Homo sapiens: one gene and its partners. The protein of the gene in region 3 purifies or fractionates together with the protein of the main gene of each other region. This does not show direct contact. Each region holds a gene or a part of one and is shown on either strand. Other genes may lie near its edges. The genes, in order: TARS2, MTPAP, TRMU, WDTC1, IQGAP3, PEX6 and CPS1.

Region 1 (4,660 bases), on a different chromosome or scaffold from region 3:
AGTGTCCACTGGATTTAGTAAAAAGGCTGCTGGATTTCAAAGGACCATTTTCAGTAAAGTAGGGCCTGAGGGTGGAGTTAGAAGATGAATAAATGAGGCCTGTGTGGTGGCTCACGCCTGTAATCCCAGCACTTTGGGAGGCCGACGTGGGTGGATCACTTGAGGTCAGGAGTTCGAGACCAGCCTGGCCAACGTGGCGAAACCCCATCTCTACTAAAAATATAAAAATTGGCCGGGTGAGGTGTTAGGACACACCTGTAGTCCCAACTACTCAGTAGCCTGAGGCAGGAGAATCGCTGAACCTGGGAAGTTGCAGTGAGCCAAGATCACACCACTGCACCCTAGCCTGGGCAACAGAGCAAGACTCCGTCCCAAAAAGTAAAAATAAAACAGGCTGGGGGCGGTGGCTCACGCCTATAATCCCAGCACTTTGGGAGGCTGAGGCAGGTGGATCACCTGAGGTCAGGGGTTTGAGACCCTGTCTCTACTAAAAATACAAAAATTAGCCCAGCGTGGTGACAGGCACCTGTAAACCCAGGAGGCGGAGGTTGCAGTGAGCCGAGGTCGCACCACTGCACTCCAGCCTGGGCGACAGAGTGAGGCTCCATCTCAGAAAAATAATAATAAAATGAAAAATAAAATAAATGCTATGATGAGAGGAAGTCTATTTGGAGGGAGAAGTTGTTGTAAAGGGAAGTTCCTGGAGAGGTTTAAGGTAGGATTGAGAAGCCTTCATAGAAGGGATCACCATTGCCATTGTATCCAGGGTGGAAGGAAAGGCTGAAGGTAGATGCAAGGAAGTTTGTAGGCATGGTAACAGGAAGTTGAGGCTCTTCCCATCCCATGGTATCAATTATCTGAATTCTTCATGAGGCAGGATCATTTGCTGAAATGAGAGTGGAGAAGAGGAGAGTTGTCAGTGAGGGGGCTGAAGATATGAAGAAAAGGCTGTGTGCAGTGGCCCCCTCTTGTAATCCCAGCACTTAGGGAGGCTGAGCTGAGATGATCACTTGAATCCAGGAGTTTGATACCAGCCTGGGCAACATAGTAACAGGGCATCATAATAAGACCTCGTCTCTACAAAAAAAAATTTTTTTTTTTTTTTTTTTTTTTTTTTTTTATTGAGACTATGTCTCGCTCTGCTGCCCAGGCTGGAGTGCAGTGGCTCGATCTCGGCTCACTGCAAGCTCCGCCTCCTGGATTCACGCCATTCTCCTGTCTCAGCCTCCCGAGTAGCTGGGACTATAGGCAGGCACCCATCACCATCACCATGCCTGGCTAATTTTTTTCTTTTTTTTTTTTTTTAGTAGATATGGGGTTTCACCGTGTTAGCCAGGATGGTCTCGATCTGCTGACCTCATGATCTGCCCGCCTTGGCCTACCAAAGTGCTGGGATTACAGGCATGAGCCACTGCGCCCGACCGTCTCTACAAAAAATTTAAAACAAATTTTAAAATTAGCTGGATGTGATGGTGGGCACCTGTAGTCCCAGCTACTCAAGAGGCTGAGGTGGGAGGATCACTTGAGCCCAGGATTTTGAGGCTGCATGAGCTATGATCAAGGCACCACACTCCAGCTTGGGTAACAGAACAAAACCCTGTCTCAATAAAATAAATAAATAAAAAGATAGAGAAAGGAAATTACTCAAGAACTGTTATATAGCTAAAATCTTTTTTTTGTTTGTTTTGTTTTATTTATTTATTTTTATATATTTTTTTGAGATCAAATTTTGCTCTGTCGCCCAGGTTGGAGTGCAGTGGCGCAATCTCGGCTCACTGCAACCTCTGCCTGCCAGGTTCAAGCGATTCTCCTGCCCCAGCCTCCCGAGTAGCTGGGATTACAGGCATGTACCACCACGCCCGGCTAATTTTTGTATTTTTAGTAGAGATGGGATTTCACCATGTTGGCCAGGCTGGTCTTGAACTCCCAACCTCAGGTGATCTGCTCGCCTTGGCTTCCCAAAGTGGTGGGATTATTACAGGCATGAGCCATCTTGCCCAGCGTTTTTTTCGTTTTTGTTTTTTTCCCCGAGACAGACTCTTGCTCTGTTGCCAGACTGAAGTGCACTGGCGGATCTTGGCTCACTGCAACCTCCACCTCCCAGGTTCAAGCGATTCTCTTGCCTCAGCCTCCCGAGTATCTGGGACAGGTGTGCACCACCACGCCCAGCTAATTTTTTTTTTTTTTTTTTTGAGGCGGAGTTTTACTCTGTCGCCAGGCTGGAGTGGAGTGGCACAATCTCGGCTCACCACAACCTCCACCTCCTGGGTTCAAGCGATTCTCCTGCCTCAGCCTCCCCAGTAGCTGGGATTACAGGCACCCGCTACCACACCAGCTAATTTTTGTATTCCCTTTTTTAGTAGACGGCATTTCACCGTGTTGGCCAGGCTGGTCTCGAACTCCTGACCTCAGGTGGTCCACCTACCTCGGCCTCCCAAAGTGCTGGGATTACAGGAGTGGGCCATGTGCCTTGCCTGGCTAAAATCTTTTGAGTACTCAAAGTTGCTGTTGACTGTGTTGGGGTCTTTTATTCAGGTAACATGTGTATTCTCATTTTTATGTCCCAAGTGTTTATTCCAGCATATGGTATTTATTTACCTGCTTCACTAAGTAGTTAGTAAATTAAAATATTAACAGTAATGAAAGTGTGTCTTCTGATTTATTTCAGCAATAACAGTAGGCAAATAAAATATCTTTATTACTAAGAAAAAAATTGAGAGAGGTTAAACAATGTGCTTAAGGTTACAGATATAACAGTCATAAAGTGTGTATTATGTTGAATCAGTCTAATAAGTTGCTGGCTCAGATACTGCTATAAAAAGAGAGAGCAAAAAACTGGAACATCCCTGAGGAGAACAGAGCATAGAGCTTATTAGGGCAATCCAAAGGATTGCTGGCAGCAGACAGGGACCAGCTGAATCTCGAAATACTGACTTCCATGGTGGCATCAATCTCTGCATTTGCATCTGTGTGGTTTGTGACATATTGGGCAGCACTGAGCAGTTCTCTTGCAGGGCCAAAGATGTAGGAGGCTAAGGTGCAGAAGAACAATGAATGGTACAAAGGGAACTAGGGAAAATGGTACAGCTTCATGGGATAAGAAACAAAGGTGGGAGGGGCCTGAGGATGGGAGAGAAAAAGAGGAGTTAAAGAACCGGTGGGTTGAAGTGCCATTAATAGGAATAATTGTCATGGCCGGGTGTGGTGGCTCACACCCATAATCCCAGCACTTTGGGAGGCCGAAGTGGGCAGATCACTTGAGATCAGGAGTTTGAGACCAGCCTTGCCAACATGGTGAAACCCCATCCCTACTGAAAAAAAAAAATACACATATGTGTGTGTGTGTGTGTGTGTGTGTGTGTGTGTATATATATGTGTGTGTGTGTGTGTATGTGTGTATATATATGTGTGTGTATATATGTGTGTGTATATATGTGTGTATATATGTGTGTATATATGTGTGTATATATGTGTATATATATGTGTGTGTATATATACACACACACACACACACATATACACACACATACATATATATATGTTAGCTGGGCGTGGTGGCATGTACCTGTAGTCCCAGCTACTCAGGAGGCTGAGGCAGGAGAGTCGCTTGAACCCGGGAGGCGGAGGCTGCAGTGAGCTGAAATCGTGCCACTGCACTCCTGTCAGGGTGACAGAGTGAGACTCTGTCTCAAAAAAAAAAAAAAAAAAGGAATAATTCTCAGAGCTGGCTGACCAAGAGACAGTAATCAGAGTAGGGTGTCTGATGGACAGTTTCAGAGGTACAGCCATTGGGGGAGATGACAGGATAAAGGGTGTAGCCATAGATGGGTGGTGGTGAAGATCTCTGAGATGAGGAGCTCAAGGAATTGAGAGGCCAGGGTGTGGACATCAGGTAATATTATAACACCATTATTAGATGGAGAGAGCTGCTGAGAACTACTGCCAGAGTGAGTTGAGTAGAGTGAACTGGAGGGGTAGCGTATGATAGAGCTAGGTGACATGATGAAGGTAGTAGCCCGGGATGAGGGTAGGTTAAAGGGTGGGATGGCACAGGTAATGGAGGATAGTGGTTCTGGATAGTGCTTCTGGCTTATCTCGTGCCTTCCCATCTGTTTCCTGTAGATTGACGTGCACCTCCACGATGCCCTGGGCCGGCCACATCAGTGTGGGACAATTCAGCTTGACTTCCAACTGCCCCTGAGATTTGACCTCCAGTATAAGGGGTATAAAACCTTGCCCTATCCTCTTTTCCCTTGACAGTGCATGGAATAAGTCCTTCTGCCTTTGGCCCTAAAAACTAAACCCTCCACACCCTCTCCTGCCAGAGCTGAATATTTCTTAAAAACTGGAAGGTGATCTTGGGTACACAATTCGTGATACTTCCACCATTCCATCCACCCCCCCCTTTTTCCTTTCAAGGCAGGCGGGTGCCCTGGAGCGTCCAGTCCTCATTCACCGAGCAGTGCTCGGTTCTGTGGAAAGACTGTTGGGAGTGCTGGCAGAAAGCTGCGGGGGGAAATGGTGAGACCTCTGACCTGGATTTCTGTTCTGGCCCCAAACCGGATAGTTATGCTCCAGATCCTGTCCCCCTTCATATGCCAGCCTCTTTCCTTCTCAAGTCTGCTCCATACAAGCACACTTCTGGCCAGAGCCAGAGTGA
Region 2 (4,660 bases), on a different chromosome or scaffold from region 3:
GGCTGGTCTCAAACTCCTGGCCTCAGGTGATCCGCCCACCTCCGTCTCCCAAAGTGCTGGGATTACAGGTGTGAGCCACCGCGTCTGGCCTTGTTAAGGGTATTGATATCAGACTTGGTGGTTTATGATCTCTAGAGTCTACCATTCCAGACTTTTTAAAGAAACACCTTAAACTACTTAACTGGAAGTTAAAATCTTGGGGGAAAAAAATTAGTTGTTAACATTCAGGTTTGTGCTTTAATACTCTCTTAGAACTTGAATAATTTTTTTCTCTCTATACTTAGTTCATTTGTTGACCTTCCCATTGTGGCTAGTGGGTTATTAATATTTAATTCTTCACTGTCACAATTCTTGTCTTGATTCCCTGTGATTGTAAAACTCCTAGCCTCTTTCTTTCCTTAGTAAAATTATCAGGGAGCTCTTCATGGGCAGTAACGAGGTTTTAAATTCTTTGATTTCCCTGATACAGAGCGCATGATAGTTGGTAACTCACTGTTAATTGTTTGAGCCAGATCAAGACCCTTGAGAAAGAAAAATGCCTTAATAGCTTATGTCAAAACACCGAATTTCCAAACTCATTGTCTCATTACACTCAGGCTTGTAATAATTTCTTTTAGGCTTTGGAATGTTACAATTTGCACAATTTTGTGTGTGCATATTTGTACAAGTATTAAATAAGTGATTTTAGTTTCCTGGTTTTTTTTTTTTTTTTTGTGGAACTCCGTTTTCAGCACTTTGCATCAAGCATAGTAAATCAAAACAGAGAAAGTGGGCAGTTTTAATAGTAGTCATGGGAGAGTAGTCAAACGAACACTGAAAGTGCAGTAATTCCACCTCATCCATGTTTTCACTGTCCACAGTTTCGGTTCCTCACAGTCAACTGTGGTCCACAAATAGGTGAGCACAGTACAATATGATATTTTGAGAGAGAGAGAGACCACATTCATATAACTTTTATTACAGTATATTAGAATTGTTCTATTTCATTATTAGTTGTTGTTAATCTCTGTCTCTTTTTTTTGAGACAGAGTCTCGCTCTGTTGCCCAGGATGGAGTGCAGTGGTGCAATCTCAGCTCACTGCAACGTCTGCCACCTGGTTTCAAGTGATTCTCCTGTTTCAGCCTCCCAAGTAGCTGGGACTACAGGCGCGCGCCACCATGCCTGGCTAATTTTTGTATTTTTAGTACAGATGAGGTTTCACCATGGTCAGGCTGATCTCGAACTCCTGGCCTCAGGTGATCCACCCACCTCAGCCTCCCAAAGTTCTGGTATTACAGGCATGAGCCACCAAGCCCGGCCCGTTGTTATTAATCTCTTACTGTGCCTAATTTATAAATTAAGCCTTATCATAGCAATGTATGTGTAGGATAAAACATTGTATATATAGGGCTTGGTAATATCTGAGGTTTTAAGCATTTACAGGCATCTTGGATCATAACCCCTGTGGGTAATGGGGAGACTACTGTAGTATAGTTTAACCCTTATAAAGGAAGAGAAAAAATAGATTAGGTGAAGTTGGTTTTAGTCATATATGAAGTCTTTAAACACCTTATCAAAATATTTTTAAAATTTTGTGTGTGTGCGTGTGGTGGAAATGTTTTTGTCTCGTTCATAGGCTTTGAAGACAAGATTCCCAAAAGGAGATTCTCTGAGATGCAAAATGAAAGACGAGAACAGGCACAGCGGACTGTTTTAATACATTGCCCAGAGAAAATCAGTGAAAACAAGTTTCTTAAATATTTATCCCAATTTGGACCTATTAATAATCATTTCTTCTATGAAAGCTTTGTAAGTATTTGAAAAACAATCTAACTTAACGTTTATGCTTTTCAAGGGTGGAGGTCTCCATTAGTTGTTTTTTGCTGTTGCTTTTTGCAATATGGTAGGTAGGTTCTCTTTGATATACTGCATCTTCTTTATCTAGATTTCTTTAATGAGTTTTGTTTTTGATATGGGATTCTTATAGCGGTATTTTAGGATTATAAGTCATTTATGACTGATTTCATTATTTGAATGCTTAATTTTATTTTTTAAGAGACGGGGTCCAACTATGTGGCCTATGCTGGAGTGCAGTGGCTGTTGGCAGGTACGATCATATTGCACTACAGCCTCGACTCCTAGGCTCGGGTGATCCTTCTGCCTCTGGAGTAGCTGGGACTACAGTCCTGCACCACCACACCCAGCTTGAATACTTTAGATAGTCTCTTTAACTTGCGGATGAAGGCCAGTGGGAGGGGATCTTTGTTTTGCCTTTGGATTTTTCTGCTTCATCATTCTTTTCAGTCTTTTCAGCTTCTCTTAACTAACATTGTTTTAAGGTTCCGTTTCTTTTTTTTTGACATGGAGTCTCACTCTGTTGCCCAGGCTGGAGTGCAGTGGCATGATCTTGGGTCATTGCAACCTCCGTCTCTTGGGTTCAAGCGATTCTCCTGCCTCAGCCTTCCAAGTAGCTGGACTTACAGACACCTGCCACCACGCCTGGCTAATTTTTGTATTTTTAGTAGAGGCGAGGTTTCACCATGTTGGCCAGGCTGGTCTTGAACTCTTGACCTCAGGTGATCTGCCCACCTCCATGTCCCAAAGTGCTGGGATTACAAGCGTGAGCCACTGCGCCCGGCCCAGTGTTCCTTTTCTTCATCTACTTAAATTGAATAAAATTAATGCTATGTTAGAATCATATCATTTGTAAATTTTAAAGACTTGATATTTTGTAGCATTATGATAATTGTTTTAATATATGAGCTAAAATAGTATGTTAGATATATCGTGAAATGTGTTCTGTTTTTTCTTATGTTTTTGGTATAGGGTCTCTATGCTGTCGTAGAATTTTGCCAAAAGGAAAGCATAGGTTCACTGCAGAATGGGACTCATACTCCAAGCACGGCCATGGAGACTGCAATTCCATTCAGATCACGTTTCTTCAATCTGAAGTTGAAAAACCAGACTTCTGAACGGTCACGCGTACGGTCAAGTAATCAGTTGCCACGTTCAAACAAGCAGCTTTTTGAATTACTTTGTTATGCAGAAAGTGTAAGTTTTTAGGTGTACCTCAACTTTTAGAACTATGTATTTTTTTATGAACAATAAAGATTCCTGTAAAATGTTCAAGCTACATTATTGTTTAATGGGTATAGATCTTCAGTTTTACAAGGTGAAAAGAGTTACGGAGATGAATCGTGGTGGTGGATGCATAATGAGATGAAGGAAAGTTTTTTTCTATTTCTAGCTTTCTAAGAATGTCGTCATGCTCAACACATTGAGTAGATGTTGAGTTTTGACATTTGAGATGGTATTGATGACTGGCATATGGTCTTGAGATTGTATATGGTTCCTAATGTCTTTTTCTTTCCCCTCCTAATGTCTTAACGTAGTGAATTGTAGATTCACTGTAGATTTCCTCATGTCAAGTCATTCTTGCATTCACAGAATAAACCCTACTTAGTCAAGGTGTATTTACAAAAATGCATTATTACATTTGTCGTGCTAATATTTTTATTACAATTTTAATATCTCTATAAATAAATGGGATTGCTTTTAAAAATTCAAACTACAGGATATGTTGAATGAAAAGTGATAGTAATCCTTGTCTGCTCCTTCCCCGCCATGCCCCATTTGTACTTACAGGTAACCACATTCTTCTGAAGTTTTCGGCCTTTTGAACAGTTTAGGTTTTCTTTCTCTTTCCAGCATAATGACATAAAATTGTACATGGTTTTCTGTCAATTTTAAAATGTCTTCTTTCTGATTCTCTCTCTCTTTTTTTTTTTTTTTTTTTGAGATGGAGTCTCGCTCTTGCCCAGGCTGGAGTGCAGTGGCATGATCTTGGCTTACTGCAACTGCTCCCCGATTCAAGCAATTCTCATGCCTCAGCTGCCCAAGTAGCTGGGACTACAGGTGTGCACCACCACACCCAGCTAACTTTTGTATTTTTAGTAGTGACGGAGTTTCGCCACTTTGGCCAGGCTGGTCTCGAACTCCTGACCTCAGGTGATGTGCCCACTTCGGCCTCCCAAACTGCTGGGATTATAGGTGTGAGCCACTACGCCCGGCCCAAGATTCTGTCTCTTCTGTGTTCAAATATTGTTTGTATTTGTCTTGGTGTTTTTTTGTTTGTTTGTTTTTGTTTTTGTTTTGAGACGGACTCTTGCTCTGTCGCCCAGGCTGGAGTGCAGTGGCGTGATCTCAGCTCACTTCAAGCTCCACCTCCTGGGTTCACGCCATTCTCTTGCCTCAGCCTCTCAAGTAGCTGGGACTACAGGCGCCCACCACCATGCCCGGCTAATTTTTTGTATTTTTATTAGAGACGGGGTTTCACTGAGTTAGCCAGGATGGTCTCGATCTCCTGACCTTGTGATCCGCCCGCCTTGGCCTCCCAAAGTGCTGGGATTATAGGCGTGAGCCACTGCACCTGGCCTGTCTTGGTGTTTCTTACTCAGACTTGCCAGACCTTGCTAGTCTTTCCAAAGAATCAACTCATGGCTTTATTTATCAAAATATTATTTTCAAGGTTTAATTTTCTAATAAGAAAATTTTTGCTTCTAATCTATTTCCTTTACTTTTATTGTTATTATTATTATTTTGAGACAGAGTTTTGCTCTTGTTGCCCAGGCTGGAGTGCAATGGCCTGATCGTGGCTCACTGCAACCTCCGCCTCCCAGG
Region 3 (4,660 bases):
GATAGGGGAGCTAAGGCTGAGGGCTCCCCTGGAAGGTGAGCACCAATGCCTGTGTGCTATGTGGGTCAGCGATTAGGGGATTTCTGAGAAAGAGGTGATACATGGCCTGTGCCTCTGAAAACAAGAAACAAACAAAAACTTTTCTAAAATCCAATATAATCTCAATAATTAAGTGCTGTGTGCTAGGCGTGTGCCACATCTAGGAACATTAAGATGTCTTCACTGTGACCTGGCTCTGTAGGAGTTTGCGGTCTAGTTGGGAGGACATTATCTTCACAAGAGGTGACAGTGATGCGTGGCACGCAGGAAGTACCAGTGATGCTATCAGTCACTGAACCCAGAGGAGGGAGAAACTTGCAGTGTGGAGTAATCAAGAAGGCTTCACCGGAGAGGAGGGGTTGCAAACAAAGTTGTAGAGAAGGGACTCCAAATGGGGTAACGAGAGCAGCGTGAAGGGGAGAAGAAATGCTGATTGTGTATTTCAGGACCGTTGTAAAGTTTGGCTGGACTTTTGTTCCTGCAGTGGAAGGAGTGTAGGGCTCATCCTCTGGTGAGCCCTGACTGTGATGAATGTCGGGCAGTTGTCGAAGGCGTCTGACACAGCAGGCCATGTGCGCGGGACAGGCTGCCCCTGCCTGAGTGGGCTTTAGGGGCAGAAGAGCCTTGGGTTGAGTCCTGACTGTAGCTTATTATATGACCTTGGGCAATTTACTTGACTTTGTTTTTTTAATTGAAAAAAATTCTCTTTTTTTCCTGCCAACAAAGACCCAGAAGAGATACTTGACTTTTCTAAGCCCCAATTTTCTCATCTTTAAAATGAGGATAACACTGATGCCTCACAGGGTTATGAAAGAATTGAGATTAGGTTCTAGTATGTATGCCTGGTATATTAGTAAGCAGTCAATAAACATAGCTGTTTTTCTTTTCTATTTTTTTTTGAGACAGAGCCTCGCTCTGTTGCCCAGGCTGGAGTGCAGTGGCGCAATCTTGGCTCACTGCAACATCTGCCTCCCAGGTTCAAGCGATTCTCATGCCTCAGCCTCCCAAGTAGCTGGGATTATAGGCATGCACCACCACGCCCGGATAATTTTTGTATTTTTAGTAGAGACAGGGTTTCGCCATGTTGGCCGGGCTAGTCTCAGACTCCTGACCTCAGAAGATCCACTCGTCTCAGCCTCCCAAAGTGCTGGGATTACAGGCGTGAGCCACCACGCCAGCCTGCTATTTTTATTTTCATTATTAAAAAGATGAGTCTGGGGAGCTAAGCTATGAGGACGCAAAGGCATAAAAATGATATAATGGACTCTGGGGTGAGGGATAAAAGACTACACATCGGGTACAATGTCCACTGCTTGGGTGACGGGTACACCAAAATCTCAGAAGTCACCACTGAAGAACTTATCCATGTGACCAAATACCAGCTGTTGCCCAAAAAACCATTGAAATAACAATAAAACGAAATTTAGAGAGATTAAGTAAATTGACTATGGTCACCTAAATAATCAACGGAAGAGCTTGAATATGAACCCTCTGTGACTCTATGCTATAACATATGGGTGTCGTATATATTAACAACATGGACAAAACTGATGGCTGAATTTTCCTGGGGAAAGTTACCTGTAGAATGCATGATAAATGCATTAAAAACTTATCTGTAGAATGCATGATAAATGCATTAAAAACTTCTGCAGTTTTCTCGGGGACATAAGAAAAAAAAAAGAGTGTGGCGGCCAAATACAGGATAAATCTGGGGGAAGACCAAAGGCAGAGAGTCTCAGGAAGTGCTGTTGCTGGAGATTTGGACTTCATGGGGAGGGAGTGTGGGAGTGGAAGGTGAGGGCTGGCTTGTTGGACCCAGAGGACAAGTCCACCGGGCAGTAGATCTGAGGTGCTTGTTAAACACAGACCTGGACCGAGGTCTGGGGGCGGCCCTGGAATCTGCTTTAATAAGCACTTCAGCTGTGCTGGTGGTGTGGGGGGTTGTCAGGGTCTTTCTTTGAGAAAAGGTGTGATGCGGCTTAGGGACTGATGTGTGTGGGAGACCAGAGAGGAGAGGAGTCAGCAGTAGTTTCAAGATCAAGGCTGGGTGGCTGGGGAAAGCTGGTTTAGGGGATTCCTCATGAGTACTGTAGAGTTTGAGGGGACAACAGGGAATCCAAGTGAGCTTACACTTCACCTGCCAGCACAGCTTTTTCAGAACGTACGAGTGGATGCGATTTTTGAAGTTTAGCTCAGCTGAGGCCAGATAGGAAGAGTGACTTGAATAGTATGGCAAATTAGGAGCGGAGCTGGGATTAAACCCCAGAATTAGGAGCGGAGCTGGGATTAAAACCCAGAATTAGGAGCGGAGCTGGGATTAAACCCCAGAATTAGGAGCGGAGCTGGGATTAAACCCCAGAATTAGGAGCGGAGCTGGGATTAAACCCCAGAATTAGGAGCGGAGCTGGGATTAAACCCCAGAATTAGGAGCGGAGCTGGGATTAAACCCCAGAATTAGGAGCGGAGCTGGGATTAAACCCCAGAATTAGGAGCGGAGCTGGGATTAAAACCCAGCTTTCCAGGCCAGTGCTTGCTGCCGCCTTCTGGCGCTGCTTGATAGGGACTGAGAGAAGGAGGCGGCCGGGTAGAGTCTTTTCCCATCTCTGGGGCTGCCCCCGAGGTCGCCCCTGGCTCCAGCCAGCCTGCCCTCTGCCCTCGCCCAGTACCAGCTGCCCGTGGAGGCATTGGTCTTTCCGCTGAAGACTCACTTCTCTAGTAGGGCTCTCTAGCTCAGAGATTTCTTTTGCATTCTTTCATTCAAGACCCACTGGCCTTCAAGGATCAGAGTCCAGATACGTTTTAGCTGCTGAGTCTTTTAAATCTGTCTCCCTCCCGAGGCACATGAAAGGCTTCTCTTCTTTCCAGTTAGAGAAGAGGCTGGGCTACTCCATTGTTTTTGCTAATGCCAAAACACACGCCTTCCCATCTGCTGTTTACGAAAGGGTTAACAGTGTGTCTTTTCAGAAACTGATTTTAATGTTCAGCCTCTTCAACATTTATTGATGACTGTGATATAGAAAGTTTGTTGGGTCTAGGACACAGACACAGATTGCACCTTAAGTAGTTTATAGTTTAATGAGCTTCCTGGTAACTTTCTAATAATTAAAGCAAAATGGAAAGAGTGTAATAATATCAAGTGTTGTTGCAAATGTGGAAAAACATGAGTTTTTATGAACTTCTAGGGGGACTGAGAAGTAGGAAAACAGTTTGGTGCCTGCTAAAGTGGAAGATATCCAAGGAACCTCTGACCCTGTGCAGATCTGTGATATGTCTGCAAAACACAAACCTCTTGATCAGCACTGGTTTTTTTTTTAACCCTTGTTGATTAATAGAGAGTTTTAGGTTAAATGAAAAAAATCACTTATACCAAAAATACACCCATTTTTAAACTCCCAAAATAGGCATCATAACCCTCTTGAAGTGAATCCTCGAAGACTATGAAATTCTTGGTAAGTTTTGCTGGTATCATGGCATCTTTTTCCCATGTTCAGTCAGTCTGTTAGAGCAGAAGTTCACTGAATTAGGATAGCCTGATCCACTTTAAGCACCCAAGAGTTTGCTAGTTCTCAGAAGTGTGTGTTTGTCACCTGAGGATAGTATTTTTGGTATATTTGCCCAGTGACGCAGCATTCCAGGCTGAGATTGCAGAATGGCTCATGGAGCCCTTGTGTAGGGAAGCCTCTGACTGTGTTTCTCCTCTGTTCTCATCACGGCAGTCATCCTCACGGAAGAAGGCTTCTGTGACAAAGGTGTGGGGGGTTTTCCCCATACAGCAAGCAGTGGACACCGACTGGGTGTCCTCTGATTCAGTTCCGATACCATCTACTTGGAGATAGTGCTGGATCCCAAAGGTTGGGGGTTCAGTCCCCCAGACGGACTCCCCCCACAACAGCAGTCGAAAGTATGGGCCTCTAGAACTTATGACCAACTGGCTTCCAGTTGGGATTCCCATAACTTCCTCTTTGGGTTCAATTATTAATAATTTGCTGGAGTGGTTCACAGAACTCAGAAAAACACATTTACCAGTTTATTATAAAGGATGTTGCAAAGGATACAGATGAAGAGACGGGTTGGGTGAGGTATGGGGAAAGGGTCATGGAGTGTCCACACCCTCCCTGGGGACCACCCTCCAGGAGCCTCCACAAGTGTAGCTGTGCAGAAGCTCTCTGAACCCAGTACTCCTGGGTTTTTATGGAGGCTTCATGACATCGCCATTCCTTCCCCCAGGATATACAGTGGGACTGTGTCTGGGGAGGGTCTTAAGACCCACAGTCAGAAAGGTAGACGCTTGTAATCCTAGCACTTTAGGAGGCTGAGGCAGGAGACTTGCTTGAGGCCTGGAGTTCAGTATCAGCATGGGCAACATGGCAAGACCTCATCTCTATAAAAAAAGAAAAGGTTGCAGTGGGCCAGGTGCGGTGGCTCACGCCTCTAATTCCAGCATTTTGGGAGGCTGAGGCGGGCAGATCACTTGAGGCCAGGAGTTGGAGACCAGCCTGGCCAACATGGTGAAACCCCGTCTCTACTAAAAATACAAAAATTATCTGGGCATGGTGCTGCGCACCTGTAATCACAGCTATTCGGAAGGCTGAGGTGGGAGAATCTGCAAGGGAAGTCTAAA
Region 4 (4,660 bases), on a different chromosome or scaffold from region 3:
GGCCTTGAGGCAGTCCCTCAGGGCATCATAGTGGTCACCATCCCTGGGAAGGCAGGGAAGAGCGGCTTGGAGGTGGAGCCACGTGGCAAGCAAGGGGTCCCCATTCAGTCTCCTCTGCTTCCTGTGGCCACCCCAGCCCACCACTGACAGATCTCATGGCAAGGGGACTTGAGGACGAAGAGAATCCTGGCTCAGCCCAGGCCTCCCCCATCAGGAGACAGAGTATGGTTAAGGAGCAAGCCAGGAAACCCTGAGGTCTTGAGGGTGGCAAAAGCTGGTGTCAGGCTGCCCTCTGCTGGGCACAGAGTGCAACTGCACACTGGCTCACCCCAGGCACCCGCAGCTCTGCAGCAGAAGGCCTGGCATCTTGCCCACCACAGGCTCCCCAAGCCCTCCTTCTCTCTTCCCCCATCCACCTTCTCAAATCACCCCCGGCTGGCCTTCAAAGCCACATCCAAGGCAGGGGGCCCTCAAGGACAGTTCTGTGGTCTGGGGAAGCCAGAAGTGTCAGGCTGGGGACGCAGGGTCTGACCAGCAGGCAGCAAGCCCTCAGCCAGACCCCCCCCTGTCCTGGCTGACTGATCCACAGCAGCTGTGGCCTCTACCTCCTGGGGCTGGAGGATGGGGCCTGACAGTCTGGCAGAGTCAGCTCTCTGGAAGCTGATGGTAAGGGGGGTTGTGCACACCAGGAGCTCCAAATCGTCCCCACTCACTTCTCCAACCTCCTGAAGCATGGATGAAGGGAAGTGGGAGTGCTTTTGATGGGGAAGCGGGGAAAGAGGAAGTGAAAGGAGGTCAGAGAAGCCCCTCCTTTTCCCACCCTGTGCCAGAATATAGGAAGCATACTCCCCCAGCACCCACAGACCTGTCCTTGCCTCTTGTCTGGAGAGCCAGACAGGCCACAGGAACTGCTTCTTCAGAAGCCATTTTTTTTTTTCAGCTGGGCTGGAGTAGGCCTAGGACCCAACTGTGCCAAGCAGCAGTAAGAGGCACCCCTTAGAGTTAATGGCCCCTTCTCCAAGGGCACAGCTCACAACAATCCGGCATGGCTAAGGCAGGCCTGACATGGGAAGGTTCTTCCTGAGCCTCCTTCTGCAGCACTCAGAGGGAGCACCCAGTCCTCGGAACAGCCACGCTCAGACCAGGAACCAGCAGCTCAGCCCATGTGGGGGCAGGCAGGAAACAGAGCTGCTTCAATGGCGTGGCCTGCGTCAGGATGAGTGGCTCTGACGAAGGAGCAGGCACTGTTTGGAAACCCAATTACTGCCTGCAAGGTGCCCCTCTGAGCTCCTGGGGAGAGCCAGACCAGAGACCAGCCAGGAGCCAGAGGGTGACAGCTCCCACTGCATCCAGGAGCAGATGGCAGCCCTGGGGAGACTGGCCCAGGACAGAATGTGACATTCTAGGGGTCACTGGCAGGCATGTGGGGATGGGGGTAGAGAGCAGGCTGGCCCCAGGGCTCACCCTTCCTAGACTCACTGCCAGATCAATCTCCCTGAAAGGACAGCCCTCGGCACATCCCTCTCCTGCTCAGAACTCTCCAGTAGCTGCCCATCATGCACTGAATCGAGGCCAACGTCACCGCTCTGCATTCCAAGCTCTCCCTAGGCCGGCCCCAGGCTACCTCACAGACTCATCTCCTGCCAGTCCCTTTCCGAACCCTCTGCTCCAGCCAAATGGATTTGCTGTTCTGCAAACAAGCTCTTCAGTCAGTCCCCCACCCCCATGCCTTTGTTCACACCATTTCATCTCCCTGGAATGTCCTTCCCCCACAGGCCCCTCCTCTCCTTCATCTCCTGTCTAAGCCTGCCTACACTTAAAGCCCATTCAGACGCCATGTCTTTCTGATGCTTCCCTGCTCCCCAGCTAAAGCGACCCAACTTTTCTTGATGCCCACAGCCCTTTACCTGACCATTCACAAGACTCACTGCTTCCTATCTCTTTAATGCTGAACTATGTCCACCACTTTACCCACTGTCTGGAGAGGCTCCTCTGGAGCACAGGAACTCAGAGTGATAGAACTTTGTGTTCCTAGTACCTAGCACATAGTAGGAGCTCAGAGAACATGCTGAGGGCACATATGGATTAGGAAATCACCAACCTCTCTTAGCAAGAATGCAGGAGTGAAGCTGAGCTCTTAGCCTACAGCCTGGATGAGGACCACTGAGTTCTACCCAACTGTTTGTTGGACAGAGAGGTGAATCAACTCACGATTCATCCAAAACAGTCATCTCCTGGGTTTGGCTACCACCTGAGCCCTTGGCCAACTCCTGATGCCTTAGCTAAGGCCGGGGGACAGCATCTTCCCCACCCCCACCTAGCATTACCATCCTGCTGACTTGGGTGGGTTTCTTAAGTTTCCCTCTCTGGCCTGCCGAGTTGCAGCCAGACGATGGCACACCAGCTGGCCTGTCTGTCTGGGCAGAGCCGACGGATGCCAGACGGAGCAGAAATGGCTGTGGGCCCAGCTCTATCCATCTCTAGTCCTGGCCCTGGCTGGGGGATGGGGGGGCGGGGTCTGCATGTCTGCTTGCCTGCTGGTGCTGCAGGCAGTAGGGCTGGGGGCCCTGATGGTCTCCAAAGATGAGGAGTTCTTTCAGATATGGTCTACTTCTTTATTACCAGCCACCATACCCTAGCGTGACCCATAGCCAGCTTTGGATCTCTGGGATATGGTTTGTACTCAGTCCAAAGGGTCTAAGAACACAGAAAGCAAGCCTTAGAGGGGCAAGGGACTGCAGAATATTTTAGACACATACCAACTGAATTCACCAAACCCCTCATTTCCACTTAGCAAGATTCCACTGCTCTTCAAAGTCCAATTCTCCAACAGTTGGGACTAACAGTCCTCAACTCATACTTCCCCAGGGGCCACAGCACTTTATAATAATATGCCATGTAGAAACTAGTTTTGAACATGTTCCACGTAACTGTGAGCTTCCTTAGTGCTTGAGACTTCCTGATTAATGGGTCAGGTGCCTGCCCACCATTAGCCTGGAGGTGGGGAGGAGAGGCCAAGAAGCCCTAAGAGGCAGCAATATGTTCTTGCCACTTTCCCTGGATGCCTTGGCAACTTGGCTCCATCAGGCCCCTGCCTTTTGGTCCAGCTGCTTTCTCCCTCATCCTGACCCAGATCCCCTCTGCAGTGGCCACTCACCACTTGCGCTTCATGTAGGCTGCTGCTCGGTTTCCATAAAGCATGGCATTGTGAGGGGCCCTCTGCACAGCCTTGCTGTAAAGCTGAATGGCTTGGGTCCACTGCTGGCAGGCAAAAGCCTCATTGGCTTGCTGTTTCACACGCTCCAGGTATGGTGGTAGCTCTACTTGGGGGCTGCAGGGGAAATAGAGCCAAGTCAGAACAGTCAAAGAAGGTCAGAGCAGCCCCTCAGGGAGTCTGTAACATGGCCTGAGGGCCACCCAGATTTTCTTGGCCCCTGGGATCTGACTGCTATCTGGAAGAGGGGACCACTACCCTGGTCTGGGATATTACCTATTACTGTGATAGGGAATACCATTTGGAATTTCATTCCAAATACCATTCCAAATACTCTCAGCCAGTGAAAAGAAGGGCAGAAATGAAGCTGTACTTCAACTCCTGGGCATGGTAGTAGCTGATACCACCTGCCTCCATGCTGAGCTGAACCTTATGACCACCCGAGTCCCTCCTGTGGATCGCTGTCTAGAGAACTCTATTTCTCTCAAGGCTAGGGAATTTGAGCGCCTCTGTATCCAAAGCCCAGCACAGAGGCTGGCAGAGAAAAGAGGCAAGGATATGCTATAGGATGGGGAATAATATAATGCGGAGGCCCATTTGTATGCAGCCCCTTTTTGGAGACAGCTCAGTGCTAAGAGGCAGCTAGCTCCTGAGTCCTGACCCCAGTTACTGGTACCAACAGGCTAGAGCTACAGTCTGACCATGACTAGTGTTCTGCCAGGCAGAGGGGCACTGGAAACACTAGGCACCCTCCAAGAAGGCTCTTTGCCTTGGTCCTCACTCTCTGGGATGCATGAGTGGGTGTGGGTCAGGAGGAAGATTTACAGGTTATGTCCCTCCCTCCAGTCCATATAGTGTAACTGGGGCTTGGAGGGCTGGACAAGCCAGCTGGCCTCACCTGACATGTCCCCTACTCTCCGGCAGCCGGAAGCCATTGCTATGAAGGTGCAGGCCATTGGACACACCGTTGGACACACCGTTGGTGGACATCTTGCCATTCTGGACTTCTGGCAGGAGATAGTGAGAAAGTGACAGCAACAACTCAGGAAGAGGACCCATTTCTTCCTGGCAGCCCTCTAGCTTCCATCACGGGGTCTGATGGTTCCATCGTGGGACTGTTCTCCCAGAGTAAGATCCATTCCCAGAAAGCAAGTTCTGACATAAAGAAAAGCCCGTGCGCCCTCTGCTGGCTGGCGAGGGACACAACTTCACCGTGGCATTACTCAGCTGGGGCTGGGGCTGGGGCTAGGGCTGGGGCTGGGGCTAGGGTTGGGGCTGGGGCTAGGGCTGGGGCTGGGGGTGGGAATGGAGTGAGGAGGTGCCTAAATCAACTGTAGGCCCCAGGAAGAAATCAATGAGAAGACTGGGCCAGGATACAAAGGAGAGGGGAACTATTTCAGGTTCTCAAGAGCCAAGCCATGGAAGGAACCTGTCTTTTCAGAGGGA
Region 5 (2,661 bases), on a different chromosome or scaffold from region 3:
CCAGTGTTCAGGAAAGGAGTGAAGCAACGGTGTTTTTGGTTGTGGTTGTTGTTGTTGCTTTTTTGGGTTTTTGTTTGTTTGTTTTCTTGAGACGGAGCCTTACTCCGTCACCCAGGCTGGAGTGCAATGGCGCAATCTCAGCTCACTGCAACCTCTGCCTCCTGGGTTCAAGCGATTCTCCTGCCTCAGCTTCCTGAGTAGCTGGGATTACAGGCGTGCGCCACCACACCGGCTTTTTGTGTATTTTTAGTAGAGATGGGGTTTCACCATGTTGGTCAGGCTGGTCTTGAACTGCTGACCTTGTGATCCGCCCGCCTCAGCCTCCCAAAATGCTGGGATTTACAGGCATGAGTCACCATGCCCAGCCGAGCAGTAGTTTTTAATCCAAATCTTTTTGCTCTGATGTTTTACCTTTTGAGTAAGAAAAATGATTTTGGCCGGGTGCAGTGGCTCACGCCTGTAATCCCAGCACTTTGGGAGGCCGAGGCGGGCGGATCACGAGGTCAGCAGTTCAAGACCAGCCTGGCCAATATAGTGAAACCCTGTCTCTACTAAAAATACAAAAATTAGCCTGGCGTGGTGGCACCTGCCTGTAATCCCAGCTACTCAGGAGGCTGAAGCAGGAAAATCGCTTGAACCTGGGAGGCGGAGATTGCAGCGATCCGAGATCGCGCCACTGCACTGTAGCCTGGGAGACCGAGTGAGACTCCGTCTCAAAAAAATAAATAAATAAAATAAGAAAAACAATTTCAAGCCCTGGTTCTGCTTGAGTTGACATTTGATCAAGTCACTGTACCTCTCTTGCCTCAGTTTCCTCATTTGTGAAGTGGGATTTCAATGCCCTACTTCAGTGGCCAGTGCCACTGGTGACTGCAGAAGGCCCCATGATGTGAGTGTTTTGTACACCATCTGACTGGACCACATTCAGAAGCCCTTAAACTCCCCTCCCTGCCTCTTCCCTCCTAGGATCTCCTGCAGCTCCAGTATGAGGGTGTGGCTGTCATGAAACTCTTCAACAAGGCCAAAGTCAATGTCAACCTTCTCATCTTCCTCCTCAACAAGAAGTTTTTGCGGAAGTGACAGAGGCAAAGGGTGCTACCCAAGCCCCTCTTACCTCTCTGGATGCTTTCTTTAACACTAACTCACCACTGTGCTTCCCTGCAGACACCTAGAGCTCAGGACTGGGCAAGGCCCAGGGATTCTCACCCCTTCCCCAGCTGGGAGGAGCTTGCCTGCCTGGCCACAGACAGTGTATCTTCTAATTGGCTAAAGTGGGCCTTGCCCAGAGTCCAGCTGTGTGGCTTTTATCATGCATGACAAACCCCTGGCTTTCCTGCCAGATGGTAGGACATGGACCTTGACCTGGGAAAGCCATTACTCTTGTGTCTGCTACTGCCCTCCCACAGTCACCCCAATATTACAAGCACTGCCCCAGCGGCTTGATTTCCCCTCTGCCTTCCTTCTCTCTGCACTCCCACAAAGCCAGGGCCAGGCTCCCCATCCCTACCTCCCACTGCATCAGCAGTGGGTGTTCCTGCCCTTCCTGAGTCTAGGCAGCTCTGCTGCTGTGATCTGCACACCCTCCAACCTGGGCAGGGACTGGGGGGATGCAGTGTGTGTTAGTGCCCATGTGGCATTGTGGCACTGTTGCCCCCCATGGCGGCATGGGCAAGATGACCTTCCATTAGCTTCAAGTCTTGTTCTCTTGTCTGTGGTCTGTTTAATATGTGGGTCACTAGGGTATTTATTCTTTCTCCCATCCTTACACTCTGGATCATTGTGCAGACTTAATCAGGGTTTTAACGCTTTCATTTTTTTTTTTTTTTTTTTTTTTTTGAGCTCAAAGAGAGTTCTCATTTTCCCTATTCAAACTAATACCCATGCCGTGTTTTTTACCTTGGATTTAAAGTCACCTTAGGTTGGGGCAACAGATTCTCACTCATGTTTAAGATCTTGTTATTTCAGCTTCATAAGATCAAAGAGGAGTCTTTCCCTTTTCTCTTTTACCCTCAGGATTCTCATCCCTTACAGCTGACTCTTCCAGGCAATTTCCATAGATCTGCAGTCCTGCCTCTGCCACAGTCTCTCTGTTGTCCCCACATCTACCCAACTTCCTGTACTGTTGCCCTTCTGATGTTAATAAAAGCAGCTGTTACTCCCACATCTGTTGTTAACCCTTATTTCATTTTCTGTAGAGCCGGCCTTTAAGTTCTGGAACACAGCTCCCTGAGAGAACTGGGGAATCCTTCCTGCAGCCTCCCCCAGCCCTCTGCCTGCCTCCGGTGTGGTCCTACTCTGCCTGCCTGAGATCGTAAAAGCTTAATGAGATGTGGCATTTATTCTCTCTTCCTTCCCCCGGGGGACAGAGAGGAGGAAGGAATGCTTAGGTTTCTATTCTGTTTTTATCGGCCACTCTGAAGACTAAAGCTGAGAAGAGAAGCCACTCTAATTTCTACCCCACCCGTTTTACACACAGTTCCTGCAGGTTCTTTTCCTGAGCCTTGGGTGGTGATATCAAAGGTGCTTAAGCCATAACTCCTTAGGTATTGTAGATTCTACACTCTGATCAAAATCTCCTTTCTGAAGGGAAAGCTCCCTCCTTTCCTCCTTGCTTTCAGAAAGTAGGGAGGGAAGTCTGTTGGGGAGGGGACAGTAGAGACA
Region 6 (4,660 bases), on a different chromosome or scaffold from region 3:
TTTTATTAAATACATCCAAGGAAAGTTTTTGGTTTCTGCCTTTACTTCAAGAAGAAAGTTGTAGAACAGATAATAGTTGTTCCATTTCCATGGGTTACTGAGTAAAGACTCACCAGTTCGCCATAACAGACATAAGAGTGACAAAAAAATAAACCTTCATTGTGTAAAAAAAAAAAAGGCCAGGCGCAGTGGCTCATGCCTGTAATCCCAGCACTTTGGGAGGCTGAGCCAGGCAGATCACTTGAGGTCAGGAGTTCGAGACCAGCCTGGCCTACATGGTGAAACCTCATCTCTACTAAAAATACAAAAATCAGCCCAGTATGGTGGTGCACACCAGTAAACCCAACAACTGGGGAGGCTGAAGCAGGAGAATCGCTTGAACCTGGGAGGTGGCAGTTGCAGTGAACCCAGATCACACCACTGCACTCCAACCTGGGTGACAGAGCAAGATTCTGTCTCAAAAAAAGAAAAAAATGAAAGTTGTGTTTAGGGGGACAAATACAGTATAGTGTTTAATTAAGGACCTAGATATATGGTTTAGATGGTGCTGTCCAATATGGAAGCCACCAGCCACTTTGTGGCTTTTTAAATTTTTAAATTTAGTTAAAACTAAATAAAGTAAGCCTGGCTAACATGGCGAAACCCCATCTCTATTTTAAAAAATACAAAAATTAAATCCCAGCACTTTGGGAGGCCAAGGCAGGCAGATCACAAGGTCAGGAGATTGAGACCATCCTGGCTAACACGGTGAAACCCCGTCTCTACTAAAAATACAAAAAAAAAAAAAATTAGGTGTGGTGGCACATGCCTGTCGTCCCAGCTACTCTGGAGGCTGAGGCAGGAGAATCCCTTGAACCCAGGAGGCGGAGCTTGCAGTGAGCCGAGATGGTGCCACTGCACTCCAGCCTGGGTGACAAGCGAGACTCCATCTCAAGAAAAAAATAAAACCCACAAAAATTAGCCAGGCATGGTGGTGCACATGCCTATAGTCCCAGCTACTCAGGAGGCTGAGGCACAAAGAGAATCATTTGAACCCAGGAGGAAGAGGTTGCAATGAGCCGAGACTGTGCCACTGCACTTCATCATGGGCGACAAAGTGAGACTAAGTCTCAAAAAAAAAAAAAAAACTAAATCATGTTTTTTAGTTGCTTTAGCTACATTTCTTTGTTTTTGTTTTGTTTTTAGCCACATTTCAAGTGCTCAATAGCACATGCAGATATAGACTATTCCATTGTAGAGAGTTCTACTGGGCAGTACTAGAGTAACCAGTTAATACTTTGGGATGTCAGGTAGAGATACATGTGAAATACATGTGAAAGGGAGTGGATGTAGGTTTCCTCCTGAATGGAGGAAAAACTACTGGGGTACTCAAGAGTAGAGCTCATTGAACCAACCAATGACTGAACCAACCCGTTCAGCTTTTCCCACAGCCTGAATTCAGTTTCCCCACTAATGACCACTTAATGTTAATCCCTGTGGATGCCTGGTGTCACTAATAGGTCTTGTGGGAATAAATGTCTTTACCATTTCACTGGCTCTGGGCCAAGTTGAAAGTGTCACAGAAAGGTTATCTTTACTGAGAAAATTTTTTGGAGCCAGAGTCGGGATAGGAGGTGATATTCTCTTCCTGGTACCCATTAGAGGGAGAGGTTTTCAGGTCTGCTACCTCAGGCCCCACCTTCCACAAGCCTTGTGGTTATGGGAAAGACAGGATGGAAATAGACATGTTGGCTGCTGAGAGACAGGTTAGAGCCTGCCCCCTTAGGAGAAGGTTATAACGTGGTGGTTATTTCTCTAATAGAGGTACTTGGAAGGCTCCATCGCCCCTGAAGACAAAGGAAGCTGCTCATTGCTGCCTGGGCCTCCATTTGCCAGAGAGTTACACATCGAAATTGTGTCTTCTCCCCACTACAGCACTAATGGAAATTATGACGGTGTTCTTTACCGGCACTTTCAGATACCCAGGTTAGCTACCTAACCTTTTAAGGAGGATAGCTTCTCACCCTCATTACATTCCTCCTATCCCATGCCTTAGAACCAAGTACCCCAGAGGCCCTGGTTAAAAGAAGCCACATTTGCGGCTAGGTGCTGTGGCTCACGTCTGTAATCCCAGCACTTTGGGAGGCCGAGGTGGGCGGATCATGAGGTCAGGAGATTGAGAGCATCCTGGCTAACATGGTGAAACCCCGTCTCTACTAAAAATACAAAAAAAAAATTAGCCGAGTGTGGTGGTGGGCGCCTGTAGTCCCAGCTACTTGGGAGGCTGAGGCAGGAGAATGGCGTGAACCCGGGAGGTGGAGCTTGCAGTGAGCCGAGATCGCACCACTGCACTCTAGCCTGGGCGACAGAGCGAGACTCCGTCTCAAAAAAAAAAAAAAAAAAAAAAAACAAAAAAAACATTTCAGACAGATTGTGGTAGGCGCCTCTTGGTATATCAGGGAGACCACAGAAGAGAAATCTGAACCATGAGGTTAATTTGGACATTCCAAACAGAGACACCTGTGATTAAAGAGGGCTCCAAAAGAGCCAGGATCCTGCTCTGCCACTCATCTGTCTCTGATCCCCCTTTCTAGTCTCTCCACCATTTCCCCTAGCTCATCCTAAGACTGACTTGTTCCTTGGAGAACTGCGTGGGATCTCTGGGCGGGCAGTAGACTCAAGAAGTAGTCTGCATGTCGGGGGTGGACATGTGGTAATGAACACATGCTCATTACTCCCATTGTGACCTGACCAGGGCCACTGCTGTGTTGCAGGGTAGTCCAGGAAGGGGATGTTCTATGTGTGCCAACAATTGGGCAAGTAGAGATCCTGGAAGGAAGTCCAGAGAAACTGCCCAGGTATGCAGCTGCCTTCTGTCCTACAGCTGGGATTTGTAACCTGGGTGCATGAGTTCTACAATCCCCTCCCTGCAAATCATGTGTAATTTGTGCCCAAGAGGATTTCGTTGTCATGTATTTTGTGTGTGCGTGTGTGTGTGTAACAGGTTCTTGCTCTGTTACCCAGGCTGGAGTTTAGTGGTGCAAACACAGCTCACTGCAGCCTCTACCTCCATGGCTCAAGTGATCCTCCCACCTCAGCACTGCCTCTGCCCCAGTAGCTGGGACTACAGGTTCGCATCACCACGCCCAGCTATTGGTTTTTGTATTTTTAGTAGAGATAGGGTTTCGCCATGTTGACCAGGCTGGGCTCGAACTCTTGAGCTCAAGTGATCTGCCTGCCTTGGCCTCCCAAAGTGCTGAGATTACAGGTGTGCACCACTCACCCCCAGCCTGTGTACATTTTTTTGGAGAGAAAATTCACCTGTCCTTCAGTTCCCAAACAAGTGTATGACTGAAGAAAGGTTAAGAACCAGTCAGGCATGGTAGTGCATACTTATAATCCCAGCTACTCAGGAGGCTGGGCAATATAGCTAGACACTGTCTCAAAAAACAAGCAAACTAAAAGAACCACTCCCTGCTGGCTTTGGGAGGTGTTTATCCTCAAACTGACTGGTGGCCCTATGTAAAGCAAAGCACTAAGAAGAGTTTAGGCCAGGTGTGGTGGCTCACGACTGTAATCCCAGCACTTTGGGAGGCTGAGGCAGGCAGATCACTTGAGGTCAGGAATTCAAGACCAGCCTGGCCAATATGGTGAAACCCTGTCTCTACTAAAAATACAAAAATTAGCCGGGTGTGATGGTGGGCATCTGTAATCCCAGCTACTCAGGAGGCTGAGGCGGGAGAATCACTTGGACCTGGGAGGCAGAGGTTGCAGTGAGCCCAGATCGCATCACTGCTCTCCAGCCTGGGTGACACAGCAAGACTCCATCTCAAAAAATAAATAAATAGGTAAAATTTAAATTCTTTTCTTTTTAAAGAAGAGTTTAATGGCCTAGACCAAGACGGGATTCCTTCCTTTCCGTTCTTAGCCTTCGTGTTATTTGGACCAAGACTTGGGCCATACCATCCATATCTCAACGTAAGGATATACAGGCTCTGATTTCTGCCTTAACTACGGAGTGTGCACAAACTACTTCTCAATCCTATCTCTGAAAACAGGAGAGGGATTTCTCTTTTTTTTTTTTTTTTTTTGAGACAGAGTCTTGCTTTGTTGCCCAGGCTGGAGTGCAGTGGCGCAATCTTGGCTCACTGCAAGCTCCGCCTCCCGGGTTCATGCCATTCTCCTGCCTCAGCCTCCCAAGTAGCTGGGACTACAGGTGCCCACCACCACGCCCGGCTAATTTTTTGTATTTTTAGTAGAGATTGGGTTTCACCGTGTTAACCAGGATGGTCTCGATCTCCTGACCTTGTGATCCGCCCGCCTCGGCCTCCCAAAGTGCTGGGATTACAGGCGTGAGCCACCGCACCCAGCCAGGGATTTCTATTGTTTTTGAGAGGGCTACCCTGTCCTATCAACAGAGAATGAGAAATAGAGCATAACCGAGCCAAGAACCCAAAATAAGGAATCCAGCTTTTCTCCTCTTGTTGACTCTGACCACAGAGGTTCCATGTAAAATGGTGAGGCAAAGAATTGAGACACTGCTTTAGCCTTATGTGTAGGGAGGAAAATGTATAGCTCTGTATCCCAGCATTCCCTGTATTCTGGACTCATTTCCTGCAGCAGTTTACTAGAAGGAGAGCACAGCTGATAGATGCACTAACTCATACATAAGAGCCTTCAT
Region 7 (4,660 bases), on a different chromosome or scaffold from region 3:
TAGGCCTTTGCTATGACCAACCAAATTCTGGTGGAGAAGTCAGTGACAGGTTGGAAAGAAATAGAATATGAAGTGGTTCGAGATGCTGATGACAATTGTGTCACTGTCTGTAACATGGAAAATGTTGATGCCATGGGTGTTCACACAGGTAGGCAAAGTATCTTCAAGAACTATAGTAATGCTTTCAGTTCATGTCTTTGATGGCCAAGGCAGTCTTTATAAAGTTGTTGCCTTTAAATTACTATTTCTAGTTGACAGACTAGTGATAACATTTTGGACAAGCATAGTATTTTACAGTATTGAAAATGTTCTCACATTTAATTTGATCTTCACACAAACCCTGTGAAGTAAGGCGGATATTACACTGAGTTAATTGAGGAAGAGCCAAAGGTAAGCAATATGGTAGAAATAAGATCCATAAAACTTAGTGTTGAGAAATAAGAAGGGAGGTTGAGACAGTTTAAAGCAGACTGAGCTGGTAATCACCCAGTAAATGAGAAAATAGGCACAATAATAGAAATAAGTTTTTCAGAAAAGTACACTAGTTAGATAAGAGGGCAAAGATGATAACTTAGGATTTAAAAGTGCTAAATTTGGGGTGTGAGCAGAGCTGTCAAAAAAGGGAGTTGAGAATGTGGAGATGGAATTTAAGAAATAAAATAGAAATAAATAAGTTGATACAAAGACACTGGAAACTGTTGGCATAAAAGGGGAAATTGAAGTTGTAGGCATAGACAAAGTATTCAAGGACATAGGTATAGAAAGAGGAGAGAATAGGGTTGAACTTTGAACTCTGGGAAACATTTAGATTTATAGGGCAGGGGAAAGAGGAAGTATTACTGTTGAAGATAGAAGGGGAGAATAAAGAGTTAAGAGGAAAATCAGGTAGTACTGTACCAACTAAGCCAATGCAAGAACTATTTTATAAAAGAGCTTTGTTTTTGGCAGTATCAAATGCTATGCAAGACCAAGACTGATTATTTAATTTGGCTCTTTTGGATGTCCAAGAGAACAATTTCATTGCAAAGTCAGTTCTGTGAGCTCTATTAAAAGGAATTACATGGTATCAAGTGGTAAGCAGAATTGGCAAACTTTCAAGAAGCTCATTCATGTAAAGAATGAGAGAGAAGCTTTGTATGGTTGTCTGGCAATGTTGGGAGAAGACTTCCGGAGGCAGTGAAGATCTGAGCGTGTTTGAAGGCAGAAGGGATGGAGACTAAGATTGCAGATATAAGGGGCTATGATGAGGGAAGTGAAGATGGAAAGGGATGAGATACAGAAAGCCAGCTGATGAGCCAGTCTGAGTGATAATATTCAATGAAAGGAAGAACTTCAGAAATAATTTGAGATGAAGAGCAGGGAAGTTGAAGTCAATCTAGTAAGTAGACGATTGAAGCCTTGATAGCTACTTACTAGATAGATGAACTTGGGAAAGGTTAGAGAGGTTTCTAAAAGTACTGTATCAGAGTAATATGGGCAAAACAGGAATTGGGGGAATACCTGATATCACATATATATCCCAACAAACCCTCAGACTGTTCTATGTCTTGCATCGTGCAAGTAGATGGTTAAGTCGCTGAAGTTGGTTATTTCAATATGCCACCAAGTAATGAGTGCTTCTTGGATATATAGGTGACTCAGTTGTTGTGGCTCCTGCCCAGACACTCTCCAATGCCGAGTTTCAGATGTTGAGACGTACTTCAATCAATGTTGTTCGCCACTTGGGCATTGTGGGTGAATGCAACATTCAGTTTGCCCTTCATCCTACCTCAATGGAATACTGCATCATTGAAGTGAATGCCAGACTGTCCCGAAGCTCTGCTCTGGCCTCAAAAGCCACTGGGTAAGACCAGAATAATTGACCATGGGTTTGCAGATTCTTTTCAGATAGAAATGAAAAATTGACAGATAGTGGAAGACTGTACTGCATTTACAAACTATGTTCCCTTTTTCTGTATGTTAGCTCCAAATCATTTATAGCACCCTGAGGACATGATTATTAATGAGCTTGTTGCCAGATTGAGGTAAATTATATTGCTAGCTGGCTTTGTTTGCAGGCTAATCTAAACGAATCAAAATCTAGGTGGCTAAAGCAGGCTGTGAAAAATCTGCTTCCTAATTGCACTTTGCAGATGTTGTTAAAAGTGCAGATTAATCCTTAATTTTAGTCTTCAGCTGTTTTCTTCAGGTGTATAGCCCTATAGCAAATAGTTGACAGAAAATATAGCTCACTTGACTCAAGCATGCAATACACATTACTTTTATTTTATCAAAACTCCACAAGACTGAACAGTGCGGAATTTTTTCACAAGTAACTGTTACAACCAAACAAATACATCTGCTGTCTATGTAACAGCCACTAGCAGGCATGATTGGAGGGAAAGGTAATCAAAACCTTTGGTTTCTAATAATATATTTAGCACCTTACACTTAAATTATGGCATTTAAATGAACACAATATTTACTTCTTTATATTTTTTTTACGTAGTTCCACAGCACTGCGTGGAGTGGTGAAAGGCATGTTGCCCTGTACAGGAGTCACAATTCTGCATTCTCACTTGGTTCTTCTGTTGACCGTGTGATTTTGAGCACATCACTCATTGTCTTTATCAGTTTCCTCATTTGTTAGGTGGAAGTTGTACTAAAGAACTCATTTTTAATTCTATAGTTCTATGAATTATTTTCTCAAACAGAATAACCCAAACTGACATTCTGGATGAAGATAGTCAAGTTCTCAAAGTGTTAGTTTTGTAAGGAGCCCAAAGTTCAAAGATAATTTGGAGACAGAGCAAGGACCCAAACTTGAAATGCCTACATTTTCTGACCATTATGTACTCTCTTGTACTAGCTAACTCCACTGTATTCTTAGGTACAGATATGTATATGTACAGATATGTATATATTTTCTCAAAAAATATTTTGCAGATTCTCATCTTAGTGGAGGTTAAATACAAATAAAGGTTAAACTTTATTTATCAATAAAGCTATCGATTTTGGGTTGAAGAGGTGAAGGTTGAGCGTTGTAGCAATGCATGTAGTGCACAGAGAGTAAATTCTCCTGTGACCTGTGCCTCTATACTTTGTATCATGACTCCTATTATTCCGCAAGTGGCTACTAAATATTGATGCAGAACAGAGAATCAAGTGTCTTATACCCTGAAGTAGAATAATACCAGAAATTTTAAGAAAGACCAATTTATGTTTTGGTCTGTTTTCAATAATTGCTCGAAGAAAAAAAAATAAATTTGTCTTCTTTTTATAGCTACCCATTGGCATTCATTGCTGCAAAGATTGCCCTAGGAATCCCACTTCCAGAAATTAAGAACGTCGTATCCGGGAAGACATCAGCCTGTTTTGAACCTAGCCTGGATTACATGGTCACCAAGATTCCCCGCTGGGATCTTGACCGTTTTCATGGAACATCTAGCCGAATTGGTAGCTCTATGAAAAGTGTAGGAGAGGTGAGTCCTTGGTTTATTACGCTTTTCTTCTTGTTCTCAGTTATTTTGTTAAATTTGTGACACCATTGACAGTGTTAAAGTTGCCTGGATACCATCAACACATGGACAGTGTTAAAGGTGCAATTGACAGTGTTAAAGTTGCCTGAATATTAGCATACTAATATGCTAACAGTCTCTATGTGATTGTTTACATATTACATATGTTACATGGCCATTTTGCTGGATTTGAAGGTCTTCCTATTCAAAAGGTGAGGCCATATATCTGGCTATATAGTATAGATACACATATGAAAACACATTCATATACATATAACTGAGTTGTAATATATTTTATAACCAAATCAAGAAAGTAATATAGAATATAATATATCAAAAAGACCACTGAACTGAGCTTAAGAATTCAACTTTAGTCCATTCATGCAAATTGTGGCTCTAACTTCCTGAGACCTCATTCCCCACATCTATAAAAGAAGAGGCTGGACTAGTTCATCTCTCAGGATCCTTCCAGCTCTAAAATTCTAAATTGATATGAGCATAGTAGATTATTAAGCCCTCTTTAATTATACTAAAAAGTTCTAAGCTTTTAACATCTTTAGAAGATTTTTTAGAATGTGCTGTTATACTATTTGAAATTAAAGTTAGCCTTTGATTATTGCATCTTCAAAGATGCAGTGTTCTTCTGTGTGAGAGGAAAGAAAGGAATTCATATCTCTGCTGAGATTCACTCCCTTGCCTCCTTCCACCAAGTCCTAATCATTTTCTGCATCCAGAAGGTTTGGGATAGTGGAGAAAACATGAAACTTGGAACCAGCTGGACTTGGATATTACTCTTGGCATTGCCACTTATTAGCTACAGACTCTCAGGCAAGACTGAGTTTCAGGATCCACACCTATAAAATAGAAATAATAATACCTACCTTGCAGGATTCTTATAATACCCCCTCTTAATAAATGTAATCCATCATTATTGTTATTATTAAATTAGTATTCATAAATGTTGCATGGGGTAGATGAGTGCTGAAGTATGAACAAATCTCAGTCTTTCTCTATCATTTGTCTATCTACCATTTATCTTAGTTTATCTGTATCTCATCTCTATTTCTGTTGTGGCCAGTGTGGGAGCTTTTAGTCTATGTATCTAAGTTGATTAGAGTACAGAGCAAAAGGCTGTTTATGACATATTTTTCCATATTGTTCTT

What was found.
Region 1: the proteins of TRMU (region 3) and TARS2 purify together in Homo sapiens (affinity purification with mass spectrometry; one large-scale study listed by BioGRID and IntAct). This does not show direct contact.
Region 2: the proteins of TRMU (region 3) and MTPAP purify together in Homo sapiens (affinity purification with mass spectrometry; one large-scale study listed by BioGRID and IntAct). This does not show direct contact.
Region 4: the proteins of TRMU (region 3) and WDTC1 purify together in Homo sapiens (affinity purification with mass spectrometry; one large-scale study listed by BioGRID and IntAct). This does not show direct contact.
Region 5: the proteins of TRMU (region 3) and IQGAP3 purify together in Homo sapiens (affinity purification with mass spectrometry; one large-scale study listed by BioGRID and IntAct). This does not show direct contact.
Region 6: the proteins of TRMU (region 3) and PEX6 purify together in Homo sapiens (affinity purification with mass spectrometry; one large-scale study listed by BioGRID and IntAct). This does not show direct contact.
Region 7: the proteins of TRMU (region 3) and CPS1 purify together in Homo sapiens (affinity purification with mass spectrometry; one large-scale study listed by BioGRID and IntAct). This does not show direct contact.

What each region holds. Positions count from the first base shown.
Region 1 is NC_000001.11:150,500,213-150,504,872, forward strand, and holds part of TARS2 (threonine--tRNA ligase, mitochondrial), read left to right. Parts: intron 1-4,122; coding exon 4,123-4,223; intron 4,224-4,419; coding exon 4,420-4,521; intron 4,522-4,660. UniProt on the Homo sapiens protein: Catalyzes the attachment of threonine to tRNA(Thr) in a two-step reaction: threonine is first activated by ATP to form Thr-AMP and then transferred to the acceptor end of tRNA(Thr). Also edits incorrectly charged tRNA(Thr) via its editing domain.
Region 2 is NC_000010.11:30,338,597-30,343,256, reverse strand, and holds part of MTPAP (poly(A) RNA polymerase, mitochondrial precursor), read left to right. Parts: intron 1-1,616; coding exon 1,617-1,789; intron 1,790-2,806; coding exon 2,807-3,031; intron 3,032-4,660. UniProt on the Homo sapiens protein: Polymerase that creates the 3' poly(A) tail of mitochondrial transcripts. Can use all four nucleotides, but has higher activity with ATP and UTP (in vitro). Plays a role in replication-dependent histone mRNA degradation.
Region 3 is NC_000022.11:46,338,230-46,342,889, forward strand, and holds part of TRMU (mitochondrial tRNA-specific 2-thiouridylase 1), read left to right. Parts: intron 1-4,660. UniProt on the Homo sapiens protein: Catalyzes the 2-thiolation of uridine at the wobble position (U34) of mitochondrial tRNA(Lys), tRNA(Glu) and tRNA(Gln).
Region 4 is NC_000001.11:27,296,609-27,301,268, reverse strand, and holds part of WDTC1 (WD and tetratricopeptide repeats protein 1), read right to left. Parts: intron 4,222-4,660; coding exon 4,113-4,221; intron 3,332-4,112; coding exon 3,158-3,331; intron 44-3,157; coding exon 1-43. UniProt on the Homo sapiens protein: May function as a substrate receptor for CUL4-DDB1 E3 ubiquitin-protein ligase complex.
Region 5 is NC_000001.11:156,524,905-156,527,565, reverse strand, and holds the end of IQGAP3 (ras GTPase-activating-like protein IQGAP3), read left to right. Parts: intron 1-966; coding exon 967-1,080; 3' UTR 1,081-2,161; downstream 2,162-2,661.
Region 6 is NC_000006.12:42,972,180-42,976,839, reverse strand, and holds part of PEX6 (peroxisome biogenesis factor 6), read left to right. Parts: intron 1-1,801; coding exon 1,802-1,965; intron 1,966-2,753; coding exon 2,754-2,837; intron 2,838-4,660. UniProt on the Homo sapiens protein: Component of the PEX1-PEX6 AAA ATPase complex, a protein dislocase complex that mediates the ATP-dependent extraction of the PEX5 receptor from peroxisomal membranes, an essential step for PEX5 recycling.
Region 7 is NC_000002.12:210,605,099-210,609,758, forward strand, and holds part of CPS1 (carbamoyl-phosphate synthase [ammonia], mitochondrial isoform b precursor), read left to right. Parts: intron 1-3; coding exon 4-148; intron 149-1,632; coding exon 1,633-1,843; intron 1,844-3,262; coding exon 3,263-3,461; intron 3,462-4,660. UniProt on the Homo sapiens protein: Involved in the urea cycle of ureotelic animals where the enzyme plays an important role in removing excess ammonia from the cell.